Linked DNA regions of Homo sapiens: all the other regions are linked to region 4. Evidence: fine-mapped expression QTL. A gene starts in region 4. Each other region holds a variant in brackets. All regions are shown on one strand. Distances are from middle to middle. Region 1 overlaps FARSB (phenylalanyl-tRNA synthetase subunit beta). Region 2 overlaps FARSB (phenylalanyl-tRNA synthetase subunit beta). Region 3 overlaps FARSB (phenylalanyl-tRNA synthetase subunit beta). Region 4 holds the start of FARSB (phenylalanyl-tRNA synthetase subunit beta).

Region 1 (7,828 bases), 86 kb after region 4:
TTGGTAGGGAAGGATAATTTGTATTGGATGATAGGGCAGCATGCTTCCTTTTTACGTGTGAGTTGGTAGGGGAGGATGATTAGTATTGGACAAGAGGGCAGCAGGCTCCTGTATGTGCTGTCAGCTCCATTGGACCGCTGTGAAGGCCTTCTGACCCCAGAGCAGTTTGAGATGCTGCAGTGGCCTGGATGGGTCTATGTGTCCAGGTGACAGGTGAGAGCTTTTGATATTTATGTTATGTAGAATACTCATATGCTTGGATATGTTTTAAATAAAGCATAGTATGAATTTTAGTTCTTTTTTGCTTTTCTTTGGAAAGAGGGAAAATTATACTTAGTGACACAAATATTTTTTGTCTGATCAAGTACCTAACTGATTAATGAGCTAAAGCAAAGTTTGATCCCAACTTCTGGAGAGAGGTAGATCTGGCAACTGAAGAAGAATATAACTGAATTTTGCTAAAAAAAAAAGTGCTGATTCGAAAAGTTGTTTTATGAAGTAAAAATTCTAAGCTCTTATCTCTTAGGCTTTATTTTGCTAACATTGTTAGAACTAGCACATCTGGCTTAGATTCCAAAATAGTTTGGTTTTATGCTTGTAAAAATGAAACCAATCAAATTGGAATTGAAGATAGATGAAAGGATGGATTTTGGTACAATGAGGATTCTTAAACACAGTAAAGTTATCAGGGAAGATCCTGAACATTGCCTTTCTGAGTGTCCCTTAAAAATAGACTGGTGTCAAACATCAGCATCACACAATATACCCAGGTAACAAACTTGAACACGTACCCGTTGAATCTATTAATAAGATAAAAGTTCATAAAAACCACAGCAAGCTGGTGTCTTTTTTCAGGTAGTGTGGTTGTATTCAAGTCTAGCTCTGTATAGGGGTGCTGGGGTGCTGGGATAAATAATTCCCAGCAGTCCTTCCAGTTCTGCAGTTCTTGATTATATTGCTTACCATCAACACCTTATATAATCTTCACTTACATGTCATTTGAAGATTTTTCTTCTCCTTTGGGGAGTCGAGGGGAGGAGAGTTTTGTCTTTTAAGTTAGACATTTATTTTGATAGAATTAAAATGTGCCATCTTTATCAGATTTAGTAATATTCATATGAATGTGAATATTCATATTAATATGAAACTAAGGCTCTATAATATTAGTTGGGTTTGGTTTCTGCATTGTTTTATTTGGTTTCCCTCCCTATCCCTCACCCCAAGTGTGGATTAGTGTGCAGAGCCAGATAGTTAAATGCAGTCACTGAAATTCTTGCTTTAAAAGACAGTGAGGCAGAATTGTTTAGTTTGGAGAGATGTGAAAAAGAGGCCACCTTAATATTTCACCTCTGTTGCTTTGGGTTTACTTAAGAATGACAATTTAGAATATTTTCCAGCTCTTTCCCCAGAAATATAAACAAAGATCCTTCTCTGCTGGTCAAGAAATATATGTAATTGTCCTTTGTCTCTGTGGTACTAACTTGACAGTAGCCGGTTCCCCTCCCCTCCAACCTGATTCTGTATTTCCTAAGCATGCTGACCTTGGAACCATTAGTAGAGACTCAGCAGTTTACTCTTTCATCAATAATGCACTCACTCTGAAGTGGCAGGCTGGACACTGTGGCCCAGCTCTGCATGGGTGTTTATAGTTTATGCCAGTAAATGTTTCTGTTGAATCTGTCAGGAGCTGCAGGCCTGATCCCTTTTCAAGTTGGTGGTGAGAGCAGTGAGTCAGCATATTTGTAAACTTCAGAAGAGTACAGAACACTGATAATTTACTGTGGCACTGGTAATTTCATGAATATGGAGTGGGCCCATATGTTCATTTTTAGCTCTGTAAATCTCAAGAACTGTTACTGCCTTGGTAAGCTGTATCAGTGCATTGGCACCCAGATAAAGAGAACTTTCTGCCTGTCTTGAAGTAAATGAGGCATCAACCCAGACTTGTGTTAGGCTGGCCTTTGCTGTGGTTTTACAGTAGATGCTTCAGAACTGCTTAGAAAGCTCTTTTCAGATGGGAATGTGGGTTGCCTTCTGGTAGCATGGCCTGTCATCAGAGGTGTGGTTCCCCCAGTAGCCGGCCTATGACACGGCGGCTCCAGTTTCTTTATGTAATAAGGTGAGAAAGAGTGAGGAAGAGTTGTACAGAGCAAATGAATTCAGTGTCGATGTCTTATCCAGTGAGCGTTGCTATGGAAAAACCTGTTTGAAAACAGGTTCTTCCCATTAAGTTCATCAGTTTTATGTTTCATTTTTTTCCTTTTGGCCTTTTTAGGACCAGTTCCAAGTGCAGGCAGAGTTCCCCTAGGACTTCTGACTGTGGACCTTCAGCAGCCTCCATGATTTCATCCTTCCTGCTCGGGTCCCTGTTACCAAAAATACAGGGCCCTTATTTTCATATTTGCCCCGGATTTTTTCCTTGCAAGAGTTTCTTGATAGCAAATCCTTCTTTTAAATACTAGAAAGTATGAGGAAGCGTTCTCTTTTCATAGCCAGTGATTTAAAGAATAGTTATTTTTAAAGTAGACTAGTGGGCTTTTAGTGTTAAATGTCTATTGATGTTTTGCCAGAAGAAACATTGATTTTTCTCTTACTTTCTCTTTTTCAGGGCCTGCTTTCTTCCCCGGGCGATGTGCAGAGATCTTTGCCAGGGGTCAAAGCGTCGGGAAGCTTGGGGTCCTTCATCCTGACGTTATCACCAAATTTGAGCTGACCATGCCCTGCTCCTCCCTAGAAATCAATGTTGGACCCTTTTTGTGAAGATTGGTCTCTGTGGTGTGATTCTCTTCCCAGGTGTCCCTTTCTCCTCCCCTAGTGTCCTTAAGTCCTCCTCCACAGGGAACATCTATTTGGGCTTTGATGTTTAATAAAGTAGAAAGCACTGTCTGGCTGTGTGGGTAGAGACCATCCTTTCCCTGCATATTAGGCCAGCTTGTGCCATATACCAGTGTGGTGTCTGTGTGTGAAGCTGCATTGTTGGGTAAAAGCCCCGTGGAGTGCTGGAGAAATGCACTAGCAGAGTGCAGGATCTGTTCTGAAAGGCAGACGTGCTCCTCAGACATCAGAACATCACATTGGAACGGATTACTCCTGCATAACAAGATCCCATTTCTTTCCTTATTGATAAAACAAGATAATCGATGAGAATTCATGTTGCATGAGTTCGAGATAACTGAGGGGTTTAGCTTTGATTTTCTACATTTGACATGTATTCATCATTGAGAAACACTAAAATAACAATATTTTTAGAAAACGTTTAAGAATCAATTATGGTCCAACAATTATAGCTTCTGAGGTCAGTTTAAAGTGAAAGAAAAATCTGTAATACAAGGATTCAAAATATGTGAGGGTGCATAGGTATTTTTTACTCTATCTGTGATACTCTAAGATAGAGTACATGCAACAAAGATCTGTTCTGCTGTAAGAGTTAAAATGGACAAGTATTGATATCAATGCAGTATGAACATTAGGAAACAATGAGAAGCTTATTTTTGCCATAGGCCATACATGTTACTGTAATCAGTCAGTTATAAAATCATGGTTTTAAATACTTAATTGAGCTACTAGTTTCTCTATTGTCCCAGGGAGATATTAGACCTCTCTTTTTCTGAAGCTAAGCTTCAGCCAATCCTCCTTGTTTTATATCCTAATTTCCTTTCTTACTTCAATCTAGAATTCTCCAGTAGGTACCATCTCTGGAAAAAAGCTGGGTCTCATGTTTGAGACAAGTTCCCAGGTACTATTGAAGTAATAAGAAATATGATAAAATATAATACTTTAAAGTCCCAGTAGAAATAGCTAACAAAGGCTGGGTGCGCTGTGGCTCATGCCTGTAATCCTAGCACTTTGGGAGGCTGAGGTGGGCAGATCACTTGAGGCCAATAGTTCGAGATCAGCCTGACCAACATGGTGAAATGCCATCTCCACTAAAAATATAAAAATTAGCCAGGCATGGTGGTGTGGGCCTGCAGTCCCAGCTACCTGGGAGGCTGAGTCAGGAAAATCTCTTGAACCAGGAGGTGGACGTTGCAGTGATCCCAGATTGTGCCACTGCCCTCCAGCCTGGGTGACAGAGTGAGATTCTGTCTACAAAAAAAAAAAAGAAGAAGTAGCTAACAAAGATAGTGAAATAAGAATTATGTTTATGGATCTTTTGCTGAGTCTACTACTAGGAGAAAACCTGACCATATTACAACCTTGAATTGGGGCAGCAGTGTCTAACTCTGTAAGATTTGTGAACACACACACTTCCAGCTGACCCTTCACAGCTCTGTTA[T/G]AAGCAGATCCTTACAACATTTTAAAAATGAAATATGCCCTCTAAAAATAATGCATGCCAAAAGGACTTGTATCCAGCATGCATAAAGATTTCTTAAAACTTAATAATAAAACTTAATAGTAAAAATAAAACAACTGTTTTTTAAAAATGTGCAAGAGTTGAGCAAACATTTCCCAAAAGATGACATATGAATGAGCACTTGAAAAGATCCTCAACATCGTTAGTCATCAGGGAAATGCAACTAAAATTCACAATGACAAACTGCATACCCATTAAAATGGCTAAAATTTAAGATTCATAAATCAAATACTGCTGAGACTGGAGCAAGTGGAACTTTCATGCACTGCTGGTGAGTCACAATGTAAAATGTTACATTGTGACTTTAGAAAACAGCTTGGCAGTCTCTTGAAACATACACCTACCATCTAGCCATTCTATTCCTAGGTTTACCCATATGGCCAAAGATTTTTATGCAAGTGTTCACAGTGTTACTTATAGTAGTTACAAATTGCAGTATATCCATACTATGAAATACTTCTCAGCAATAAGAAGGAATGAACTACTGATCCTCAAAACAACATGAATGAATTTCAAAACAGTATGCTAAGTGAAAGCAAGAGACACAAAAGACTCTATTTAATTCTATTTACCTGAGAGTCTAAAAAAGTCAAAAGCAGGTGGTCGGCAGGACCTCAGGAAAGAGAACTGACTGCAGTGGGTTAAGAGAAAACTTTTTGGGGTGATGGAAATTTTATCTTAATTGAGGTGGTAGGTGTACTTCAGGTGTAGGTTATACCTTTGTAAAGCTGGGAGAAAAAGAATGTAATGTAACATGTAGTATTTTACTGATTTTAACTACATAACACCAGTTGATAAATGCCTAGAGAAATAGCCTGAACTGTAGAATTGGCAGTTGTGCTCAAGGTGGCTCACTGGTCCACAGCTATTAATGATATATTCTCCCTTAGTTTCAGGTTCGCTCTAGTTAAAATCATGGCTTATGGATCATCATATGATAGCCCTTGTTGAAGTAGGTGGAACCATTTGTTCTGTCAGCAGCTACCCACCTGGATATTTTTGGGGGTGGCCAAAATTACTTGTAATGAAAAACCCACTAATGCCTAATTGTATATCCCAGCATGAAAGGGGAAAGATCAACTCCATGCATCATGTAGATGTTTCTGCCCTCGGAAGCAGGAAATGGTAGGCAGAAAAACAGTGTCGGCTGCATTGGAAGAAGCGAATCCAGCTCATGAGTCGAGGCTCTGCAGCCAGATCATCTTACACTTGTCCCTGGTGAAGCATTTGAACTGGAGCCAGGGCAGTCTGTGAGTACTGCCAAAAGCCTTTATTACAGAAGATGCACACCTTCTTAGTAAAAACTGGGAGCTCTAGTATTAAAGTGAAAATTAAATGGAATTGATTTTTGTTCTAGCTTAGAAAAAACTTAAATTCTACCACTACAGCCTCACAGTCCTGCAGTGCTCTTCTAGTTTTGTTTGTTTTTTGTTTTTTTAGACGGAGTCTCGCTCTGTCACCCAGGCTGGAGTGCAATGGCACAATCTTGGCTCACTGCAACCTCCACCTCCTGGGTTCAAGCAATTCTCCTGCCTCAGCTTCCCGAGTAGCTGGGACTACAGGTGTGTGCCACCATGCCTGGATAATTTTTGTATTTTTAGTAGAGACGGGGTTTCACCACGTTAGCTAGGCTGGTCTCGAACTTCTGACCTCAGGCGATCTGTCCACCTCTGCCTCCCAAAGTGCTGGGATTACAGGCGCCCAGCCTGCTCTTCTGTTTTTAAATTATTTTTGAATTGATCTTTTTTCACATTTTAATTTTTTTGGTTTAATAACGGTATGAGAGTAGGAATTCTCCCTGATGTGTAGGGTGAAAACAGTTGAGTTTCAGAGAGATCAATAACTTACTCAGAAGTCACATAGCCAATAAATGAGTTTGAGACACTATAAAAGAGTGACTTGGAGTCCACAGACCACTCACTGATTTGCATTATTTACTTATTTATGCGAAAGTAAATAATGGGACTTTCTACACTTTTTAAAAATATAAAAATAATGGGAGACAAAAAGTTAAAAATTGTTAAGTCCAATACTTTAAAAAAACTCTGCAAACTGTGGCCTTACTGAGTTAATCTACCTTTCTTCCTCCTGATTCCCTGAAGTAACTAACTGCTGTTAACAATTTAGCCTGTATTGTTCCTTAGTTTGGACATTTTCCTTGATTTGTACAGTCAGCCACACACACCTGCTCACATTTTTGGGGGTCATGCTCTACTTACTGGTTTGCAACAAGTTTTGTTTTTTATTTTACATATATCTCATGACATTTCACTTAATATGCCCCATTTTTTCAGGTCAGTGCCTATAGACCTATCTCATTCTTTTAAATGAGGTAATATTCTATTGTACAGATGTCCGTAATTGTTCAATTATTCCCTTGTTGGTGGACATTCAGTTGTTTCCAACTGTTTGCAATTATAAACACTGCTCCAATGAACCCCCTATCCTGCTAAATAGCACTGGCTTAGGACCCCAAGGAAAACCAGTCCTAATGGGTGCAAGACTGTATAAATATCCACATTTGACAGACACATTCAGAGATGCATAGAGTTCATTAGATATTTCTTTGATGTGACGTTTGTACTTGAACTATATATTATTCCAGTACCTTACATCTTAGATGTAGAAGTCGCTAGGTCAAAGGATGTGTTTTGAATTTAAAACATGTTGAATGACTGTTCTCACATTTTAAACAGGAGTAATCTACTACAAACCAGCCAGCCTAACCACTGCCCCTGCTCTCAGCAATGATGGGCTCATCAGCTTGGTAAGAGAGAACATTACTCACAATCTTGCTTCTCAATCTTAATCTATTTGTGCTTGGTGTTTTATATAACATCACTAACCCTAATACTTGAGTATTTACTTTGGCCCTTCTGTCCATTTTATCCAAAAGCAAACAGATAGCCTTCAAGGGACACCATTGCCTTAAGCAGAATATGCCTCCTAAGCATTGAAAGCCTTTGACCCATCTGATATCCAAGTTCTGGCTTATTATGTTATTAGGGCCTTGAATAACTTTATGTATATTATTATGGACTGAATGTATCCCCACAAATTCATGTTGACCCTCTGACCTCCAGTGTGATGGTCTTTGGAGATGAGGCCTTTGGCAGGTGATTAGAGCTAGATGAGGTCATGAGAGGGAGGCCCTCATGAAAGGCTCAGTGGCCTGATAAGAAGAAACACCAGAGAGCTTGCTCTGTTTCTCTGCCTACCTGGCGCACACATACAGAAGAGGTGATATGACCACACAGCAACATGGTGGCCACCAGCAAGCTAGGAGAGGGATCAGAATGAAACCTATTTTGCTGGCACCTTGATCTTGAAATTCTAGCCTCCAGAACTGTGAGAAATAAAATTCTTTTATTGAAGCCACCCAGCCTATAGTCTTTTGTTGTGACAGTCCCAGCAAACTAAAACACATTATTGAAAACTTGCATTCAAAAAGTAGAGAGTGGCATGCATGATAAA
Region 2 (7,828 bases), 24 kb after region 4:
AGACGGGGTTTCACCATGTTAGCCAGGATGGTCTTGATCACCTGACCTTGTGATCCACCTGCCTCGGCCTCCCAAAGTGCTGGGATTACAGGCATGAGCCACCGCGTGCGGCCTAAGCATATTCTTCTATATTTTCTTATCTTTTTTTTTTTTTTTTTGAGACAGAGTCTCACCTTGTTGCCCAGGCTGGACTACAGTGGTGCAATCACAGCTCACTATAGCCTTGACCTTCCTGGCTCAAGTGATCCTCCTACTTCAGCCTCCCAAGTAGCTGAGACCACAAGTGTGTGGCACCACAGCCAGCTAATTTTTACATTTTTTGTGGAGATGGGGTCTCACCATGTTGCCCAGGCTGGTCTTGAACTCTTGGGCTCAAGCAGTCTTGCTGCCTTGGCCTCCCAAAGTGTTGAGATTTCAGGCGTGAGCCACCTCACCTGGCCTCTGTATTTTCTTTGAATAATTTTTATGGTGTCTTTTGTATGTGTGCCTGTGTGTTTGTCTTTTGCTTTTCAAAATGCTTAGGTCTTTGATTCATCTGGAGTTACGTTTTTTTGTTGCTGATTTGAAGTTGAAATTTTGGTGATGTTTTGAGGTACTGTTTTAGGATTAAGGGACCAATGTTAATATCTAAGAAGACAGACTTTCTTACCTGTGCATTTGTCAATTATTAATTTACCTGCATTTATCAAACCATGCATATTTTATCCTATGATAGTTCTGGGTTTATTATCTTCTGTAAGCATATGACTAATTGAGTAAAGTAACACTCCCTTATTGCCTGTTAGCAATTCTTTTTAACCCTATTTATTAAAGTTGTAGTTCACCAGTCCTGCAGTCCTAGAAGTTGACCAAAATTTAATATTAAGCATTTTAAACTAATTTAGTGCACATACACTTTAAACTAAAGAATGTTAAGAACACAAATTTTGACCAAGTTCCTCCTTTCAAATTGACTGTTAGAAAGCCAAACTTGTGTCCTTTCCTGGTAAGACTTAGGCTTTTAGATTCTAATTCAGAATTAACATTTCCTGGCTCGGTTTTACATCCCTACTTCTATTTCTTTCTCTCCTATTTTGTTGCTTGCTGTAATTTCCTAAAATTACCTTAAATCCTTTGTGGATAAACTGTAGAACAAGTGAAATGAATACCTTTTGAACTTTCCTTATACATTAAAGTAAACTTGAACTGTAATTCAGAGCTGTTGAAATTAAAATTAAATTTTTTCCATGACTAAGGTAATGCAGCTATGTGATAAAATTTAGGAAAACATAGAAAAGCCAAAAAACCCACAATTCGATAGTTCGTTCTAATTTATTAAAACATGTTTACTTGAGTATATCAAGAAGAAATAGGTTAAAAGAGGTAAAGGAAATGCTAACTTTGAAGATATCCTAGAAACAATATTTGGGAAAAGATAATGGCAAGGAATTTTCTTCAGCTCCTGAAATCATGTATTTCAGGTAGTTTTGTGATTTCTCAGTACTCTTAATGGTTGTGAGAATTTGTTCATTATATGCCACTAATGATGCCATGTAGTAGCAATATGCTGTTTCAGGGAAGTATCTGAAATAATTAAAAAAAATATGTAGTCTATATTTATGTTATCTTTAGAATTTCGGCTTTAGAATATTCAAATCTGTCTCATTCTCCTCCTTTCCTTTCCTCCCTCCTTCTCCCTCAACCTCTCAACAATTAGGAAAAGAGCACTGGTTGCCATTGGTACCCATGATTTGGACACTTTGTCGGGCCCATTTACTTATACTGCAAAGCGTCCTTCAGATATCAAATTCAAGCCTCTAAATAAGACCAAGGAGTATACAGCCTGTGAACTGATGAACATATACAAGGTAAATATTCTTTTTGATTATGCAGCAGCTTTGCAAAAATCATGAAATTCCATCAAAGTCAAGCCTTGCAACTAGGGAAATGTAATCAATACTTTTAAAAAATAGCAGTGTCTGGACTCCAACCTAGAGACAGTGATTCATCTGATCTAGAGTGGGACCTGAACATAGTTTTATTTTATTTATTATTAAATTTTTAACCTCTGATATGATTTCAGTGTACTGCTAGGATTGAGAACCACTGAAGTAGACCATACCACATTGTAATCTTCAATTGAAACTCATGCAAGTATAAAGAACAGTAAAACTTAGCTAGTGTTTTTTGTGGGAAATACTGTTACAAGCTGTCTATCTCCCATTATTTAAAAGTCCAGCAGCGAAAATGAATTCAGTAGTCACTTTGAATTGTATTTAATAAGTAGAAAAAATAGGTGTCGTTTAGAAAAAGCAGGGTCATCCTTGCCCTGATTTGCAAGTGACTTCTTCGTATTTATCTAAATAGTTTTGTCATGGTTTATGTTTCCTTTGAAATGATTCAGGCATACCAGTGCAAATCTGTTTTCACTCTTGAGAAATGATTCAATTGTGTTCATTGAATACTGGAATATTAATTTATATTAGAAAATCTTATAAATTTAGAGCTTTCTTTAATTTGGGTCTGTTTTAATGTTTTTCTAACTTTTCCCCTCCTTTTTTTTTTTTTTTTTTTTTGAGACGGAGTTTCGCTCTTGTTGCCCAGGCTGGAGTGCAATGGCACAATCTCAGCTCACCGCAACCTCTGCCTCCCGGGTTCAAGTGATCCTCCTGCCTCAGCCTCCCGAGTAGCTGGGATTACAGGCATGTGCCACCACGCCTGGCTAATTTTGTATTTTTAGTTGAGATGGGGTTTCTCCATGTTGGTCAGGCTGGTCTTGAACTCCCAACCTCAGGTGATCCACCGGCCTCAGCCTCCCAAAGTGCTGGGATTACAGGCATGAGCCACCACACCTGGCGTTCTCTTCTTTTTTAATATTAGGTCAGTATGTGAACTATAGTGATAGAAATTAAAAAAAAAAACTAATTTTATTTGACTTAATTTGTTTTCAGACTGACAATCACCTGAAACATTATTTACATATCATTGAAAACAAACCCCTGTATCCAGTTATCTATGATAGCAATGGTGTCGTCCTTTCAATGCCTCCCATCATCAATGGTGAGTTATTTTATAAGCATCACAGATCTTTGCTGTTTCCTTTTAATCTTCAGCATTTCTGTAGAATTCTCAATAGACTTGGCTGAATCAAATTCAAATAACTCATAATCTGAGTATCTCAGGTCTTTTGTAGATTCTAATCATTCTTTTCATTCATTTATTCAACAACATTTTATTGGTGATTCTTATGTAACTTATGCTCATACATTTATAAATATTTTCTGATGCTAGGTTTTGGGTTCTATTATGTTTCTTCAAAGGTTATTGATGTTTTGGTTTTAGCAAGTAATTCACTTGGTTAAACTCAAAGTCAAACTCTGTCATGTCTGTAGTTTTTTTTCTTTTGTTTTTTTTTTTTGTTGTTGTTGTTTTTTGTTTTGTTTTTGAGACAGGCTCTTGCTCTGTCGCCCAGGCTGGAGTGCAGTGGTGCAGTCATGGCTTACTGCAACCTTAAACTCCTGGGCTCAAGCGATTCTCCCACCTTGGCCTCCCAAAGCCCTGGGATTATAGATGTGAGCTGCCGTGCCTGGCCTTGCCTAGTTATATAGTTAAACAAAAACTTTTAATTTAAATTTTGCCCTCTTAATTCCTTTCTGAAGGCTATTTTTATGAGGCAGTTTGAATGTATTTACAAAACTTAATGATGTCTGAGACATAGATGTTTGCGTTTCTGGAGGTAAGAAGGAGGCTTAGCTGATTTGCTATGAGAAGGAGAAGCTTCTTCTCAAGATCTTGGACCCTAGTAGTTACAGTGGTTAAGAACATGGGCCCCAGAGTTAACCAGTTCTAGACCCAAATCCTAGCCTTGCTGCTCATGATCATGGTCAAATAGTTTAATCTCTCTGAATTTAGTTTCTTGCCAGCAATTACATCATAGGATTGTGGTAAAGATTAGAGGAGACAACCTATGTTAAGTGCTTGGCATAGCACCTGACACATTGTATGCATTCAGTAAAGGCCTGTTAATTATTTTATTTTTATTCTTCAACTTGCAGTAGGAGCTTTAAATATAAGTTGTTTATCCCTTTGCTCTTAAGATGTTAGGTTTTTTTTTTATTATTTTTATTTTTTTGAGACAGAGATTTGCTTTTGTTGCCCAGGCTGGAGTGCAATGGCACACTCTCGTGCC[A/G]TTGCACCATGTCGTGCCATTGCACCATGTCGTGCCATTGCACCATCTCGGCTCACCACAACCTGCACCTCCCGGGTTCAAGCAATTCTCCTGCCTGAGCCTCCCAAGTAAGTGGGATTACAGGCATGCGCCACCACGCCTGGCTAATTTTGTATTTTTAGTAGAGAAGGGGTTTCTCTGTGTTAGTTAGGCTGGTCTTGAACTCCTGACCTCAGGTGATCCGCCCACTTTGGCCTCCCAGAGTGCTGGTGGGTGTGAGCCACCATCCCTGGCCAAGGTGTTAGTTTTTAATATGTTTTACATTTAAAATGTAGTTTCTGTTTTGTTGAGCTTAATAGTGCACTTCTATTTCTGAAATTAGTTATTTTAATGTTATTGTTTTGTGTTCATTGCAGGGGATCATTCCAGAATAACAGTAAATACTAGAAATATTTTTATTGAATGCACGGGAACTGACTTTACTAAGGTAAGTAAAACTTTTACTCAATTTTTGTATGATCAGCTGGGATAGATTTTATTTCCGGACCAAGACTAAGTGGCTAAAATTTAAAATATGTGCATTTTGTAGGTGGGAACATATTTTAGAAATTTAGACAATTAAAAAGATAGAGATATTCTACACTTTGGTTATGGTGCTTTCATTAATTCGACAAATGTTTAGTGAGCACCAAATGTCTTTCCAGTGCCAAGAATTTAATAATGAGTTACATGTCTCTTCACTTCAAAGAACTCCTAGGGGGAGAGTTAGTCATATACGTAACTATAAAACACAAAATGGAATGAGTACTATAGCGAAATCCATATAAATTGTTTATCTAGTTGACTTAATTTATATGCGGAGTAATTTGGTACCTTTGTGTACTTGTTAAAATCTTAAAAAAAAAAAAGGAACTGGCGATGAAGAAGCTTTATTTAGTAAATTGATAGATGGTTGGTTTATGCACACAAAATTATCTAGAATATAATTCTTCACCCACTTTGAGTCAGTTCATCTATTGGAATGGATTGCTATGAAAGCTTTTTCTATGACATATGACTTCTTTACATATGTTAAATGAGGTGGCAGTTAAACAATTTAAAAAAGGTAACCTCAAATGGCAGGAGAAGGCTGGAGTATAGAAATAGGGCAAATAAATGGTATTCATGTACATCTTATAGGATTAGAGACCATTGTAAGGTATTTCCTTTATAACTTTTAGGTACTCCTTGCCTTCAGAAATATTGTCAGGGTAGTACAGCTTTTAATATTAATTTTTTAAAAAATTTAATTCGTGCATTTACAGACCTTGAATGTCTTTCCTGAAGCCTGTATATATAGGAGTGAAATATTTATATAAGAGTAAAGCATATATTCCAATAAGGTCACGGTATTTTTTTTCTAAGAATTTTTTTTGAAATAGAAAAATTATTTAACAAATCTATATGGTGTTTACTACATGCCAATTATTTAATCTTTGTAAGTACCAGACAAGATAGGAATTTTCATTATCTCCTTAACAGGTAAGAAAAGTGGTTTGCCTAGTGTCATACTGTTAATAAGTGCTTGAGCCAGGATTCAAGCAGCCTGGCCTCAGAGACTTAGGAGATTGTTAAGATTTATTCCAGTAATTAGCCATTTGTCTCTGTTGAAGCCCAGTGAACCTGAGGTTGGGGGTTGGGGAACGAAACGATTTGTCTCAGTCATGGATTATAACTGTCAGAGAACTGCGTAAATGCAGAACACCTGAAGATAAGGCTAGGCCTACTCATGTTTTTATTCCACTTCCTTTCTTAAAATGTATACGTAAAGGTCCATTAGATGTGAGGACACAATTATATTAAATATTAATTCATTTCCATCTGAGTGAAGAGAATATATTTATAGATTACTATATTTGTTTTTCTTTTCTTTGCAGGCAAAAATAGTTCTTGATATTATTGTCACCATGTTCAGTGAATATTGTGAGAATCAATTTACGTAAGTTCATCCAGCACCTTTATTGATGGCCCATTGTTCTGAAGGCGAGGCTTTGTGCTAAATGTAAAGATAGGCCAGGTGCGGTGGCTCACACCTATAATCCCAGCACTTTGGGAGGCTGAGGCGGGAGGATTGCTTGAGCCCAGGAGTTCAAGACCAGCCTGGGCAACACAAGAAGATGCCATATCTACAAAAAATTAAAAAATTACTTGGGTTTGGTGGCCTGCGCCTGTAGTCCTAGCTATTGGGGAGACTGAGGCAGGAGGATTGCTTGAGTCTGGGAGGTCGAGGCTGCTGTGAGCTATGTTTGTGCCACTGCACTTGAGACTGGGTCACAGAATGAGACACTGGCTTTAAAAAAATGAATGAATAAACAAATATAAAGATTAAAAATGTGGTTCCTATAACTAGAACATATAATCTGTTCAGGGAGATAAGACATACGCATAAATATTGGATAAAGTCATAAGCATTAAGTACTTTAAAAAGTTTTGGTGATATTCCGGCTGTTTGTAAGGGCAAGTTACTGCCAGCTGATACAATCTGAGAAGGCTTCATGGAGGCAATGAAATTTAAGCTGTGTTTGGGGATCATTGGATTTGAGAATATATAGATGGAGGAACAGCAAAAGAGCAGCTAAACAGAGGTAGAGAAGCATATATAAGAGCAAAGCATGTATCCCATGTCGGTAAGATTACTGTATTTTTTCCAAAGCATATTTTTAGTTTAAAAAACTATTTAACACATCTATGTGGTCCTTGGTACTAGCATCATAGTTTATTCTAGAATATTAATATAATTGAAAATAAATATATAACTGTAGAAAGCATGATTGAAATTATATGGGCAGTATCAGTTTTTTTTCAACTGATTTTCATTTCAGTGATTCTTTCAGTTTTATTATGTAACACACTGCCCTGGTAAAGCCTAGAATGTGTGTGTCAGTATTGGCAAGGAGTCCCTGTCGGATGCATGCTTTGCAGTACTGGAAAATAAACCTTTCAAGTAGGTGGTGCCTGAAAAGGACATCGGAGCCCTAGGAGATGAAACAGTAGAGTATTATTGTTTATAGCAAGATCAATCCAAACAGTGCTGGAATGCGATAGATGGAGTATGTTGAGGCTGTAGTTGTAGCCCAAATGAAAGATTTGATAACCATACTCATGTCTGTAATTTATGGCACATTTTTTTCTTAAGTATTTTATTTCTGGCTTTTGTTTTCAGGGTCGAAGCTGCTGAAGTGGTTTTTCCTAATGGAAAATCACATACCTTTCCAGTAAGTGCTTAAGAAATGACTTCATGATTATGACAACAATGCTAATAATAATGGCTATAGAGCACTCATGTTCTGTCTGTCTATCCATCCCCTACCTACCCACCCGTGTGCCAGGCGCTACACTATGTGCATTACATGGATTTAGTCTTCACCATAATCCTGTGAGGGTAGGTGCTCTTATTAAGCTTTTTCCAGATGGAGTCCCTGAGACCTTGAGATGTTAAATACCTTGCTTATTATTTTTAAGTGGTAGAGCTAGGATCTAAATTCAGACAGTTTGACAGCAGCTGTAAACACAACATTATACAACAACATTGTGTGGTCATAATTCCTATGATTTATTCTATTAACTAGTTAACTGAGTAGTTTTTTAAAAAATGTTTTTATTCTTTAATTGGCACATAATAATTGTACATATTTATGGGGT
Region 3 (7,828 bases), 32 kb after region 4:
TGGTTTTGTCCCCAAGGGACTTGACATAAAGATGACTGTTCTAAAACATAACAGTATCACAGTCACTTCGTGGTTCTCATTCAGTGAGAGCATTCTTTGATGAGCTTTTCCTTCCCCTTTGAATCTTTCACTATTCCCTTGCCATTTATGAAGTAAATCACAGCCTGAAATAGTTTCTGCTATTTAAATAGCTTTTACAGTAGATGAAACCTGCTAAGATCAAAACCTCCCCATTCCGGAAGACATTAACATTTAGCATCATATTTTATTCTAGAGTGTTAATTATACTTCAAAAGAAACATAACTGTATGAAGCATAACTGAAATTATATAGGCAATATTAGTTTTTAAAAGTTGATTTGGATTAAATATCTATTGTCAGTTAGCTTTTGTTATTTAACAAACTACCCCCAAGACTTAGTGGCTTAAAACAACAACCATTTATTTATCTCATGATTCTTTTGGTCAATAGGGTGGTTTTCCTGGTCTGAGCAAGTTTGGCTAATCTCTGCTGGGCTTACCCATATGTAGTCAGTTGACTGGTTGGCTAGCAACTGGATGATCTGGGATGGCCTCACTCACGTCTGCTTCTTGGCAGTGGGGTCAACAACTCACATGTCCCTCATCATATAGCAGGCTAGCTTGGGCTTTTTGACTTGGGGTTGGTTGCAGGGTTCCTAGCAGCAAGAGAGCATGCCCAGTGCCCAGGCATTTTTCAAACATTATTCTGTTGGCCAAAGCCAGTCATTTGGCTAGATTTGACAGGTGGAGAAATAGATGTCATCTCCTGATTGGAAGATTGGCAGTGTCACATTGCAAGGCCATGGATACAGAGAGGGGAGAAATTTGTGGCCATTTTTGCAGTTTATGACAGTAGCAATTGGGATTAGCTGGACATAGCTTTTTAGATGGTTTTAAAATAATGCCAGAGAAAAGTTTCTTTTTCTTCTTCTTCTTTTTTCTTTTTTGAGATGGAGTCTCCCTCTGTCGCCAAGGCTGGAGTGCAGTGGCGCGATCTCGGCTCACTGCAAGCTCTGCCTCCTGGGTTCACGCCATTCTCCTGCGTTAGCCTCCCGAGTAGCTGGGACTACAGGCGCCCGTCACCACGCCCGGCTAATTTTTTTTTGTATTTTTAGTAGAGATGGGGTTTCACCATGTTAGAGAAGATGGTCTTGATCTCCTGACCTTGTGATCCGCCCGCTTTGGCCTCCCAAAATGCTGGGATTACAGGTGTGAGCCACCGCATCCAGCCTCTTTTCAATATGATGATTTGTCAAGTGTTAATAAAAGTGATTATATATTTTTGGGAAGAAAAGGAGAAATATATTTTAATATTTGGTTCACTCTTCTCCTCATATGGATAAACCCTTAAAATCATTTATTTGTAATATAGAGACCTTTTGTAAATTTGAAATGGTGGGCTTTCTGAAAAGGAGTACTGCATGAGTGTTTTGGCATTTGTTCATTTATTTCCTCCTAAACTTAAATTAGAACAGCTTTTCTTAGGGAAGGATCCTCTGGGGGAAACTGATTCTTTCTCACATGAAATAGCATATTTTCTCAAACTCTGAAAATTTTTTTTCTTGTGTTTTGTTATTTCATAGAAAAAAATAAAGTTTTAAAATAAGAGAACTAGGGGAGATAAGTTGTCAGTAGTCAGACTAATGGTTAATGGTGTGTACTTTGGAATTAGGTTGTCCTAATTTATTAATTCATTAATTTGTTCATTAGTTACTTCTTTTTTTTTTTTTTTTTTTTTTGAGATGGAGTCTCGCTCTGTTACCCAAGCTGGAGTGCAGTAGCATCAGCTCACTGCAACCTCCACCTCCTGGGTTCAAGCGATTCTCCTGCCTCAGCCTCCCGAGTAGCTGGGATTACAGGCTTGTGCCACCATGCCCAGCCAACTTTTTTGTATTTTTAGTAGAGATGGGGTTTCACTACATTGGCCAGGCTGGTCTCGAACTCCTGACCTCAGGTGATCCACCCACCTCGGCCTCCCAAAGTGTTGGGATTACAGGCGTGAGCCACCACGCCCAGCCATTTGTTACTTCTTGTATGCATACATTCACTTATTAAATACATATACCAAACGCTTATTATCTGATAATCAGATAATAAGCACTGGGCATATAGCAGCACTTGGACTTGGCAGTTTACTATTCTGACCTGGAACTAGTTATTCAGCTAAAATTCAAATTCCTTACCTGTCAAATGAGAATACTAATAGCATCTGTTGTGAGGATTAAGTAAGATTATCTTTAAAATGCATCTCGTACTGTTCAGCTCATAATAACTGTTTAGGTCATAGTAACTATTGAGAAAAGTTATTATTACTTTGCAATCTTCACCTTGTGCCTCCCAAACCCTGCAGTGCATTCTCATCACCTGGGGATCTTGAAAACGTGCAGATTGGGCTTCAGTAGCTCTGGTGTCACTGCCACTAGCTATCAAGACCTGCAGTCAGCCTTTCTCACGAGCACTCAGGTGATGCTAGTGCTTCTGCTCTGAGGACCGCATTTTGAGTAGCAAGGTTCCAGACCATTGCCTTACTTGAATCAAAACAGGTTTTAAAATCTATGGCCTTTTTGCTAGTGGCATGTTATACTTTTGAGAGTGAATGAGTGATAAGAAATATTCATAAGGACATTTCCAAAGGTGTTGAAAAGCCTGGGATTTATGTGTGTGTGTTCTCACCTCACTAATACGGTGGAGTTATATACTGTTTGAAGGAGACTGAGTACCAAATTCATCATTGCATTTCTCCACCTGGAAATGGTAAGAAAGGAATATCTTCATCATGCTCTTAGACTTAGTATGATGGACACTGTGATATTGGAATTACTCTTTCTTGGTCATATCCATCTGCTTGCATAGGACGAGACTGAAAATCTTTAGCAGGATTTATAAACGTCTTTGGAATGATGTAGCACAACAGTGTTTTACTGTGGGGAATGGGGAATGACTATCTGAAAGGGAAAATTGTTTGGCATTTTATATTATTTCCAGGCAGTGCAAACTGTCTAGCAAGTAGAATGTTCATATATGAATCTAATATAGCAAATTTATCCCTCATAATACTGTTTTTGAAACATCAAGTTTATTCTCAATGTGTGGCTCTAATGACAATTTCTTGGGAACGTAATAGAACTGCAATAATGACTAATGGAAAAGACTCTAAAGCTGTATCTGATGGGAAATGATTTACTTTTTAAACTCTTTCTATTTAAGGAATTAGCTTACCGAAAGGAGATGGTGAGAGCTGACCTAATTAACAAAAAAGTTGGAATCAGGTATGCTCTGAAAACTTCACTTAATTCAAGAACAAAGTACACGTATGACTAATTTTTTTTTTGCGATCCTTCAGAGTCTGTTAAGGAATGATAAAACATCAGTTAAGATATCTGGTTTCTGATAGAACTCAAAAAGAAAGGTTACTGTTTCAGCTAGTAGCATATGTTGAAACACAATGTAAACATTAAAAAAATAATCCAATGAAGTTTATGGTTTGTTCATTCCTTTTTCAGAGAAACTCCAGAAAATCTTGCCAAACTTCTGACCAGGATGTATTTAAAATCAGAAGTCATAGGTGATGGGAATCAGATTGAGATTGAAATCCCTCCAACCAGAGCTGACATTATCCATGCATGTGATATTGTAGAAGATGCAGCTATTGCTTATGGATATAACAACATTCAGATGACTCTCCCGAAAACTTACACCATAGCTAATCAAGTAAGATTGCACCCTTAAATAAACACTCCTTATTGTTAGAAACTGATTATTTAATGCCAGGAAG[G/C]CTTCGAGAAAACAGAACGTAGGAATCAAGCAGTATTTGGACATGCTCTGCAATGAGAGGCATTTGCTGTGGAGAGGATACAAAACAGATGCCCAAATGATTAGAGTAAGTTGAAAACCTGTGATGACTAGTTCTTTGAAGAAAGACAAGTTTTGAGTTTGGAGCCCTTGTTGAATCTCTCAGAGATTCATTTTCTCAACTTGGGCCTGAAGGCAGAAGCTGTGTGTGGGAGAGATGGAAGTGGGGGTGGTTTGTACATCTGTGTAGGAGCAGAGGGGTGGCAGAGCGGTGGGGAGGGAGGAGGTAATATTGATAGGGAAATAGTGGCATTAGCAGTACGTTAGTAAGGGTGAAAAGGTTTTTAATCTTTTAAACATTTTTATTTAAAAAAGTTTTAATGGCATGTTCTGTATAAATCTCCCTTTTAAAAAACAAGAAATAATTGCGGTGAAATCAAGTGGATGCTTTTTTTTTCAGTTTCCTCTTAATAAGCTCACTGAACTTCTCCGACATGACATGGCAGCCGCTGGCTTCACTGAAGCACTTACCTTTGCCCTGGTATGTCTTACATGCTTTTTCTGCCCAGATGATTATTTACTTAGACTCTCTGAATTATTTATTCTATGATGCTTTATAAGAATTTATAAAATCTAGACTGTTAGAACTTCCAGATTCTGGAAGAATAACTTTGTTACTTGAGATTATACAATTCCTGGTAAAGTAATGTTGAAGCTTTTGTTTTTACAGCCACAAAAGAAAATGAAGGCCTAGAAAAAAATACCTCAAATGAGAGATGACAAAGTATTTTATAGTTTCATGTGAGTGTTGAGAGTTCACAATGTATTTCATAACCAAATTTATTAAGTTAGAATATTTGGTCTTAATTTGGTTATGGCTGTGCCCACTAGATGCCGTCCTGGGTAAAGGCTTGTGGACTGTTCCACATTAAATTAATTTCTTTGTCTTTGAACATGTTCACAAACATTTGCTTTGAGTTGAAAAGCTGACATAAAAGGCCTAAATCAGGAAATGACTTTTATTACAAAATCAGAAGGAAATTTCCCTCCCCCACCAGATTGACCATTTGAAAGAATAAAATGTGTATGCAATTTGTAGTTCCGTTTTTCCCTCTTGCTGAGCATTTCTGTGGTGCCTGCAATGTAGTTCTTGAGCATTCAAGTATGTTTAATCTATGAGGGGAAAGGAAGCTTCTTCTTTTTCTCCCCTGCAACTTAGCCCTACCTCTGAAATTCTCAATATTTTAGAGTATTTAAGGGACTCTACTTCTAGTTTGCTTAATAAATATTAAGCATTAAGATTTTTCTGATTCAGGAGTCATTCATTCAACATTTGTTGAGCATTTATTATATGTCAGGCACTGCACCAATGAGGAAGCCTGAGGCTGAGAGAGGATAAGTACGTAGCACATTTTACACGGACAGCAGGAGAACTGCTGTGTTCCAGGCCACCATACCTGCATGATCTCATTATATCATGAGCAGGGTCCTGACCTTTAGCCTCCTAGAACAGTGCTTTTCCATGGTCTCATACCGTGTACACTAGGTCTGTAATGCCATGTCATTCATCTTTGCACATATATATACACACATTTGTAGTTGTGAGCATCCAGGATTTCATATAAAATGAAGTACCAAAAATAACATTGAAAAATATATTTTTATTTTTTAAAACATATGAGTGTCACAGGAATACATCTTATTTTAAAGGACTCATACTTTAACCATGTAGATTAAACCATAACAGTTCTTTTCCCCACTTCGAATCCTCTTTTCCTCCCCAGAAACAACTGCTGTTAAAACTTGGGTATGCATTTTTCCCTGCCCTTTTATATTAGTGGTGCCAGTTTGAAAAAAGTTACTTATTACTTTATCCTTTTTATACTTATACTTTATACTTATTACAATATCCATTGCCAGTTTGATTTTGTGACCTTAGAGCCTCATGTGTCTTCGAAGGAGCACAGAGGCCGAGTCTTGACTAGTGGCTGCTCTGCAGGGAATGTTTACCCTGTGCCAAGGGCTTTGTGTACATGATTCCATTTCTTCTCAGTATACTCCTGTGAAGTGGGCATTCCTGTCTTTCACAGCAGTTAATTTAAGTAACTTGTCCTACGCCATGGCTGTGGATCAGGGATTCCCGCCCATGCCTGTCTGCATCCAAGGCCTGTGACTGAACTGTCACACCAGGGATGTTAGAAACAGTCTGTTTAGCTGTCCAAAGTCACTTTAATACATTCAATGTTTATCACTGGGGGGAAGAGAAAGGAGTGAGCTCCTAGAGGGTTTCAGATTTGTACTAAATTTTCCTGTAGGAATTTCAACATTAAAGATGTTTATAAAGATGTTTATAGGCAAGCCTAAGCATCGCTGAGCAAAGATGGTCTATGTTGTTAAATCCAGTTTTGCACAAGAGTAACAGCCATTTTTTTAAGCCTAGTCTCTGACTTTCTAAGTGTAAATAATTCACACTTCATCATATTGATTTTTGCTATATCTGCATAGTAGTTGTAATATTTTCTTTTAAATTGGCTCACTTTTAAGTTGGCTTATGTACTTCAGCCTTGTTATAGGAATAATATCTGTAAAAACTATAAGGTTCATTTACTTGTTGTATTTTTCTAACACATTAAAATAAACACATAAATATTAACATTAAAAAAGTTCCTGGCAGGCATGGTGGCTCATGCCTGTAATCCCAGCACTTTGGGAGGCCGAGGCGGGCGGATCACTTGAGGCTACAAGTTCGAGACCAGTGTGGCCAACATGGCAAAACCCCATCTCTACTAAAAATACAAAAATTAGTCGGGTGTGGTGGAGGTTGCAGCAAGCCGAGATTGCACCACTGAACTCCAGTGTGGGCGACAGGGTGAGACTCTGTCTCAAACAAAAAAAAGTTTCTTACTGTGTACTAACTACTGCCACTTCAGGGTAGCTTAATTTAAATTGCCTCTTGTCACTATCCCTTATTATCCATTGCCATGATAAAATACAAGTTCACTCAGATACACAGCTGCGTTGCCATGTGTCTGCAGAGTGTTTTTCTTTTACACAGAGAGGACTAGTTTCATTTGAGAATAGATTGCTTCATGTCAGTTGCATTTCATAATTAATCAGTCACATTATACCTAAGTCTTGCTGTAAAACTTCTTTATGCTGTGGGGAAAACGCTTATCCCCAGTGTGCATGTCACCATTCTCCATCTCAGCAGCTGTAGCAGATCCGGGAGCTGTTTTCTGCTATGGCTGGATGTGGCTTCAGGATCTTTCTCAAGAAAGCATGGCAAGAATCACTAGAACTGACATTGACATGAAATGAATTCTTTTTACCATTTCAGTTGATGTGTATCATTTTGTTTTAATAAGTGAAATACAGGCCAACTAGCCTTTGAAAACTAGTTGTAGAACAGCATAATGAACAATATTGCCTAACATTGGACAATAGTACAATAATCTGATGGTACATCAGTTTTTGTGTTACGTTTTAAATGCTTTTTCAAAAAGCTAGCATTAATATACATGATAATAATTTATCCTTAGTAATGATTTGTCAGTTATCATCATTGTTGGTATTTTTTGAGTGCTTACTCTGTGCCAGGCACCATACTTGCATTATCTCATTATATCATTTATTATTAGACTTGATGTATCTAATCGTCAGTGAGTTTTTAATTTCATAACTTCTGCCTACAATGCTGGTTTCTGAGGGTGGCAAGCATCTTTCTCTTCGATTGGTGGGTACTCAGCAGTTTATTTGTTATGAGTTTCAGGCATGTGCACAGAAGTTAAGTGATACAGTAAAGAACACTGGGCAGAGTTCCAGTCACTTGAATTCTGTTGTCAGTCCTACTGTTCTGCCACAAGTCAGTATGGATTTAGCAAGGGTTATAATGGTAGTCAAAATGGAAAGTCATGAAATACCAAGGAGGGAGAGAAAGTTTCTGACTAGAGTCATTAGGAATATTATGGAAGAGAGGTCATTTAAGTCAGCCTTAGGGAATGGTAGCAGGTGAGGCT
Region 4 (6,259 bases):
TTTTTCCCTCAAAATTACAACGTAAGATTTATCCAAGTTGATACATGCAGGTGTAGTTCATTTGTTTACATAACTGTATGGTGTTTCACTGTATACATTTATCATAACTGTCTACCCATTCTAGTACTGACAAACATTGGGTTGTTCCTAGATTTCTGTTATAATGAACAATGTAACCATGAAAATTCTTATTTGAGTCTTCTGGTGCACATGGGTAAGAGTTTCTCTGGGGGAATATTCCTAGCAGTGCAATTGCTGGGTAGTAGGATATGGACATGCCCCATTTTTCTAGGTAAGGCCATATTTTCCAAAGAGGTTATATCAATTTATACTCCCAAATTCTTGCCAAGATCTGATTTTTTTCAGACTTTAAGACTTCTAGCAGTCTCCTAGGTATAAACATGTATGTCCTTATAATTTTTATTTGCATCTCCTTAATTTCTGCTGAGCTGAGAGTTTTTCCATGCCTTTTGTCCAGCTCGTCTTTCCTTCCTAGGAAATGCTGCCACCTCATTCCTGCTTTCAGTCTGGCCCCAAAGTTAGATGAAAGAAGCATGTACCTACATTTTGTGATATACGATCTCATCATTTTCCATGTACCTTTCCTTTCAGTTAGCTAATGCCATTTGTGATGAGCCCTAGTGGCCTAGTTTCCTCTTTTCCATTAGAATCTTCTAACAGTTTAGCTTCTCACAGAGAAGGGACAGAGTACCTGTAACATGTGCAATGATAAAAAGTAGGATAGGTCAGTTGGGGGATGTGAGAGATGGGAACAAAATGCCCCTTGGTGGTCTGAGACTAGCAGAAAACTAACTAGGAGGATTAAAAAAAATGACAGTTGCCCCATTTCCAGGACCTCTGACATGATAAGAACTATACTAGTTATTTATGAGTATTATTTCAAATTCTTACAATAATTCTTTTTTAGTTTTTAAGACAAGGTCTCACTTTGTCACCCAGGCTGGAGTGCTGTGGCGCGATCACAGCTCACCACAGCCTCAACCTCCCGGGCTCAAGTGATCCGCGTAGATGGGATCATAGGTGTGTTGCCGCCATGCCTGGCTAATTTTTCTTTTTGTTTAGAGATGGGGTCCAACTCTGTTGCCCACGCTGGTTTTGAAATCCTGGGCTCAAGTAATCCTCCCACCTCGGCCTCCCAAAGTGCTGGAATTACAGATATGGGACACAATAATTCTTTAAGGTGTATATTATTATCCCTATTTTATGGATGAGGAAACTGAGGTTCAGAGGCCACAGAACACTTTGGAGTGCCCAAAGCAGAGCAGGTCAGCAGGAAGTCCTTTGGTTATTTATTATTACTATTTTGTTGTTGTTGTTGTTATTGCTTTTAAGACAGAGTCTTGCTCTGTCACCCAGGCTGGAGTGCAGTGGCGTGATCTTGGCTCACTGCAACCTCTGCCTCCTGGGTTAAAGTGATTCTCAGTCCTCAGCCTCCCCAGTAGCTGGGATTACAAGTGCCCACCACCACACCCAGCTAATTTTTGTAATTTTAGTAGAGATGGGGTTTTATCATGTTGGCCAGGCTGGTTTCCAACTCTTGACCTCAAGTGATCTGCCCACTTCAGCCTCCCAAAGTGTTGGTATTACAAGTGTGAGCCATCATGCCTGGCACTAGTCCTTTGCTTATTAATTGAGCAGAAAGCACCAATTTTAGGTGGAAAGCTGTATTTTGCATTGGGGATGTTTGCCATTTATGGGGTGTTGCCAATCTGTTATGTTGGTCACTGGGAAGGGACTGCCTTCCCATGGAGGGGAGCTAATACTGTATAGTGAAAAACTGCTTGATTAATAGTTAGGGTGGCTTACATCTGGCTCAGCTTTTCTCCCCTCATGTGAAGGACTTTGGAAGAAGCCCTCACTCACTGTACAGTAGAAAGGATTAGGGCAAGGCTCCCCCTGGAACTGCCAGTTTGTGCCTTAGTTTCATTACCTGTAAAACAGGGATAATGGTACCTATCTTGATGTATTAGTTTCCCTTGGCTGCTGAAACAAATTACCACGAACTTGCTGACTTAAACCATAAATTTATGCTCTCACAGTTCTGGAGGCCAGAAACCCAAAATCAGTTTCACTGGGCCCAAATCAGCATGCATTATAGGGCTGCCCCATGGGCTGGGCGTGAATCTGTCCTTGTCTCTGTTTATTTCAGGGATACATGTGCAGGATGTGAAGGTTTGTTACATAGGTAAATGTATGCCATGGTGGTTTGCTGCCCAGATCATCCCATCACCTAAGTATTAAGCCCAGCATCTATTAGCTATTCTTGATGCTCCCCGCTCCTCCACCCCCTCACCCCCAGTGTGTGCTTGTCTCTTTGTTTCTGGTGGCTGCTGGCATCCTTGGGTTGTGGCTGCCATACTCCAATCTCTGCCACCGTGGCTAAATCGTCTCTCTCAACCTCCCTTTTATGATTTGATGAGGATACTGTGATTCCATTTAGTGTTCGTCTTTCGAATCCAGGATAATCTTCATCTCAAAATCCTTAACTTAACCTGCAAAGACGCTGTTTCCATATAAAGTTACATTTAGAGGTTGCAGGGATTAGGGTCTGATATTATTGGGGGCCGTTATTCAGCCTATTACACTCAGGGTTGTTTTAAGGAGGAAATTTAATGCTGGCAGAGGGCTGAGCACAGCCCACTGACAGCAGAGAGCACTGAGCAAATAGACAAAAAAAGAGGTCTCTTACAATGCCTCCCTTATAGGGCTGCCGTAAAGTTCAAACAAAGCACAGGTATATCACTTATACGAGTAGAGGAGAGATTAAAGAATGAAGTAAAAACTGAGGTCTGTTAACAGCCCCTCTCCCGCCGCCAGGATTTGCACACCTTTCTCTGCAGGAAGCCTTGAACCCTCTCCACTCGCATTTCCACCACCTCCAGGCAAGATCTCCCACGTGGAGGCCCCACCCCCTCCCTGACGCGCCCCACTCTCGCCCCGCCCACCTGGTGGGCGTCCCCGGCCGTTAGCGCCCTGGAAGCATCCGGGACTTCAGGGTCAGTACATTACAATGCCTGACAAATCCTAGCCAGTTCTATCAAATTATATCTTTCTTACAGGCTTTTAAGCTATTAGTCTCATAAAGATACATTTAATCAGCGAGGTAATGGCATGATGAGTGTTTTTAGGTTAAAAAGAGAACAGGAACTGTTGCCAGCAGAATGGCGATATTCAAGACAACACGCACAAGAAGAGGCGGGTCCTACGCGCTTCGCTAGGGAAGCCCGGGTCAGCTCGCTGCGCAGGCGCAGTGAGTTCGACACACCATGCCGACTGTCAGCGTGAAGCGTGATCTGCTCTTCCAAGCCCTGGGCCGCACCTACAGTGAGTGGCGGCCCTATACGTTGGGCCCTACGCCTCTTCTCGGAGGCAGGGCCTCCCTCCAAAAGGGCAATGTGGCGACATTCATGCCTTCCTGAAGGTTTTGGCTCCGGGAGGCCGGGGTTTACGCGGGAAGGCCGATGATGGTGGCGGTCCGGCTGGGCTGTGGTAGCCTCGGAACCGGCATCGCAGCGGTGCCACTGCTTGTGCCCGGCTTGCCGTGTCATTCATTCAGCGATCTGCCATCGAGTGCCTACAGCGTGCCTGGCACCGACATCCAAGCCAGGGGATAGAACAGGAAGGAAACCCGGGGTTGCATCCCGAGCGTAGCCAGTTAATTGCAATAGCAGCGCTGTGGGAACTCAGTTTATAAGGGGGTAGGAGGAGAGATTTGTGCAGCGGGGTGGAGAACGGCATTCCACCTGTCTTCGTTTTATTAATGTTTCCTGAGCGCCTGTTATGTGTCAGGCACTGTTCTAAGAGCTTAGGACTAGAGCTGTGCACACGACACGTCAGGTCCACGTTCTGTCTGATGGAGGCAGACAATTAACCAGCACGTTAATAAAATGATTTCGGATAATGTTAAATGCCATCAAGGAAAGAAAAGGTGTTGTGCCAAGAACAACTTTAGATAGGGTGGTAACATTTGATCTGAGACCTGAATGGGGAGTATTAAATGGGTGTAGACTTCATTCTACATTTCATCTTTTAATCAGTTCTAAAAACACAACCATTGAAAAAAAGGAGGGAGATATTAAATGCAGTTATCAGTTACCTCACAGCCGTAGCAGCTGCCCCACCCTATTTTTTTTTTTATTTTTATTTTTTGAGACGGAGTCTGCACTCCCAGGCTGGAGTGCAGTGGCGCGATCTCGGCTGACAGCAACCTCCGTCTCCCTGTTCAAGCAATTTTCTGCCTCAGCCTCCCGAGTAGCTGGGATTACAGGCGTCCGCCATCGCGCCCGAGTAATTTTTTTGTATTTTTAGAGAGACCAGGTTTCACCATCTTGGCCAGGCTGGTCTTAAACTCCTGACCTCGTGATCCACCTGCCGCGGCCTCCCAAAATGCTGGGATTACAGGCGTGAGCCACCGCGCCCGGCCCCCACCCCATAATTTTTAGCTTGTATAAAGGCTGGACCAACTGGTTCGTGAGAGCTGTTTTTTTTGTTTTTAGGGCTCAGTGTGTTAACAAAGGCCTAATTGGTTTAATGACAGCCACCGCTTCCCAGAATAAGATTACTGTTACAGTGAAAATAAAGCTGGCTTTTAAGAATCTTTCCTAAGTGTGTACTTTTAGATAGTACCTATTCTCTATGTGATATTCTTCGTAAGTTCTGCCATAAGTCCCTGAAAGTAAAGGAAATACAAGGGTATTGTATTACTCTTACCCTTTGTACTTGGCTCTAATCGCCTAATCGCTTTATTTTATAATGAGCTTATTTATATTTCTTACCTGCCCTTCTAAACCATATTCTCACTAATGGGATGTGGTACAGGTTAATAATTCCTTATCCAAAATGCTTGAGACCAGAAGCGTCTTGGATTTTGGATTTTGGGATATTTGCATATACATAATGAGATATTTTGGGGGTGGGACCAAGTCTAAACATGAAATTGATTTATATTTCACATATACCTTATATGCATAGCCTGAAGTTAATTTTATGGAATACTTTAAATAATTTTTTTTTGCATGAAACAAGGTTTTGACTGTGTTTTTGACAAGTCACATGGAGTCAGGTGTGGAATTTTCCACTTGTGACATCATGTCTGCACTTTAAGGTTTTGGGTTTTGGAGCATGTCAGATTTCAGATTTTTGGATTGGGAATGCTCAGTCTGTATACCTGAATTGCCTAAGATGGTAGGTGGCAAATATTTGTTCAAAACATCTATAATCAGTTCCCATCCCAGTCTCCATTTCTAGGGAGGTAAGAAATAATCCAGATTTTTAAAAATGGTGAGATTTATAACCTATTTACTATCATCTGATGTTTTAACATATTCTGTCTGCTTCCCTTTTTTTTTCATATTGTCAGTGATCAATTAAGATTGATTTTTTCACAAATATGTGTTTGTTAGCTACTGAATCTTTTAAGGTCCAGGTACATGGCTGATGCTTGTAATCACAGCACTTTGGGAGGACGAGGTGGGCAGATTGCTTGAGCTCAGGAGTTGGAGACCAGACTGGGCAACACAGCAAAACCCTGTCTCTACAAAAAGTAGCTGGGTGTGGTGGTGTATACGTGTAGTCCCAGCTACTTGGGAGGCTGTGGCCGGAGGATCGCTTAAACCAAGGCGGTCAAGGCTGTAGTGAGCGGTGATCAAGCCACTGCACTCCAGCCCTGGCCACAAAGTGAGACCCTGTCTCAGAAAAAAAAAAAAAAAATTCAGTCAGAAGGATTGATGTTATTTATTGAGATGTACTTTCAAGAGGTCAGAAATGATTCTCCTCATTAGTTTACCTTTATTGTGTTCTTGCTTGAAACTGTTAACTGGGTTGAGGTCAGAATTGAAAAAGCATGTTCAGCAAACATGTGGTTTCCAAGTAGTATGGATACATCTTGTTTCTTACCTTTTTTTTTTTTCCCCAGTCTTCCTCTTTTTTTCTTGTTTTCAGATAATGTCTCATTCACACTTTTAAAATCCACATTCTCTCTCTTTAGTCCCTCCAAGGGTTGCTTTCTATTTGAAATTCCATTGTTTCTACCAGTCCCCACCTTCCTTTTTACCACCTCTTTGCTTAGCAAGGATATTTCTCTTTCAAGCTGTTTGCCATTTTGGTTATTTTGCTCTTCTGACTCCTTTGGAGCAGTTTTGTCTCCTTAGTCTACCTTTTCAACGGACTTTCTGTGCAGATGGTTTCCTCTTGCCACTCCTTTTCTTGTTAACTGATTTATTATCACTGCTCTTCAATT

The links. PIP is the estimated chance that this variant, and not a neighbour inherited with it, causes the effect. A credible set is the group of variants that fine-mapping cannot tell apart.
Region 1: its variant is the best candidate, but not a certain one, in a credible set for the expression of FARSB in whole blood (INTERVAL, PIP 0.61).
Region 2: its variant is the best candidate, but not a certain one, in a credible set for the expression of FARSB in skeletal muscle (GTEx, PIP 0.58).
Region 3: its variant is the best candidate, but not a certain one, in a credible set for the expression of FARSB in testis (GTEx, PIP 0.75).

Annotation. Positions count from the first base shown.
Region 1 is chr2:222,566,803-222,574,630 of GRCh38, reverse strand. FARSB (phenylalanyl-tRNA synthetase subunit beta) reads left to right here. Exons shown (of 17, transcript NM_005687.5): 17 at 2,609-7,732. The coding sequence ends at 2,760. Among named protein-coding and RNA genes, the nearest start is that of FARSB, 85 kb to the left of the region's middle. The variant T/G (reference allele first, on the strand shown) is at 4,277.
Region 2 is chr2:222,628,410-222,636,237 of GRCh38, reverse strand. FARSB (phenylalanyl-tRNA synthetase subunit beta) reads left to right here. Exons shown (of 17, transcript NM_005687.5): 6 at 1,697-1,847; 7 at 2,931-3,039; 8 at 4,564-4,634; 9 at 6,064-6,125; 10 at 7,350-7,401. Among named protein-coding and RNA genes, the nearest start is that of FARSB, 24 kb to the left of the region's middle. The variant A/G (reference allele first, on the strand shown) is at 4,169.
Region 3 is chr2:222,620,175-222,628,002 of GRCh38, reverse strand. FARSB (phenylalanyl-tRNA synthetase subunit beta) reads left to right here. Exons shown (of 17, transcript NM_005687.5): 11 at 3,228-3,289; 12 at 3,524-3,731; 13 at 4,273-4,353. Among named protein-coding and RNA genes, the nearest start is that of FARSB, 32 kb to the left of the region's middle. The variant G/C (reference allele first, on the strand shown) is at 3,796.
Region 4 is chr2:222,653,102-222,659,360 of GRCh38, reverse strand. FARSB (phenylalanyl-tRNA synthetase subunit beta) reads left to right here and starts at 3,269. Exons shown (of 17, transcript NM_005687.5): 1 at 3,269-3,345. The coding sequence starts at 3,288. LOC124907985 (a long non-coding RNA gene) reads right to left here and starts at 2,928. Exons shown (of 2, transcript XR_007088095.1): 1 at 2,850-2,928. RefSeq lists a silencer at 2,846-3,042 and an enhancer at 3,159-3,208.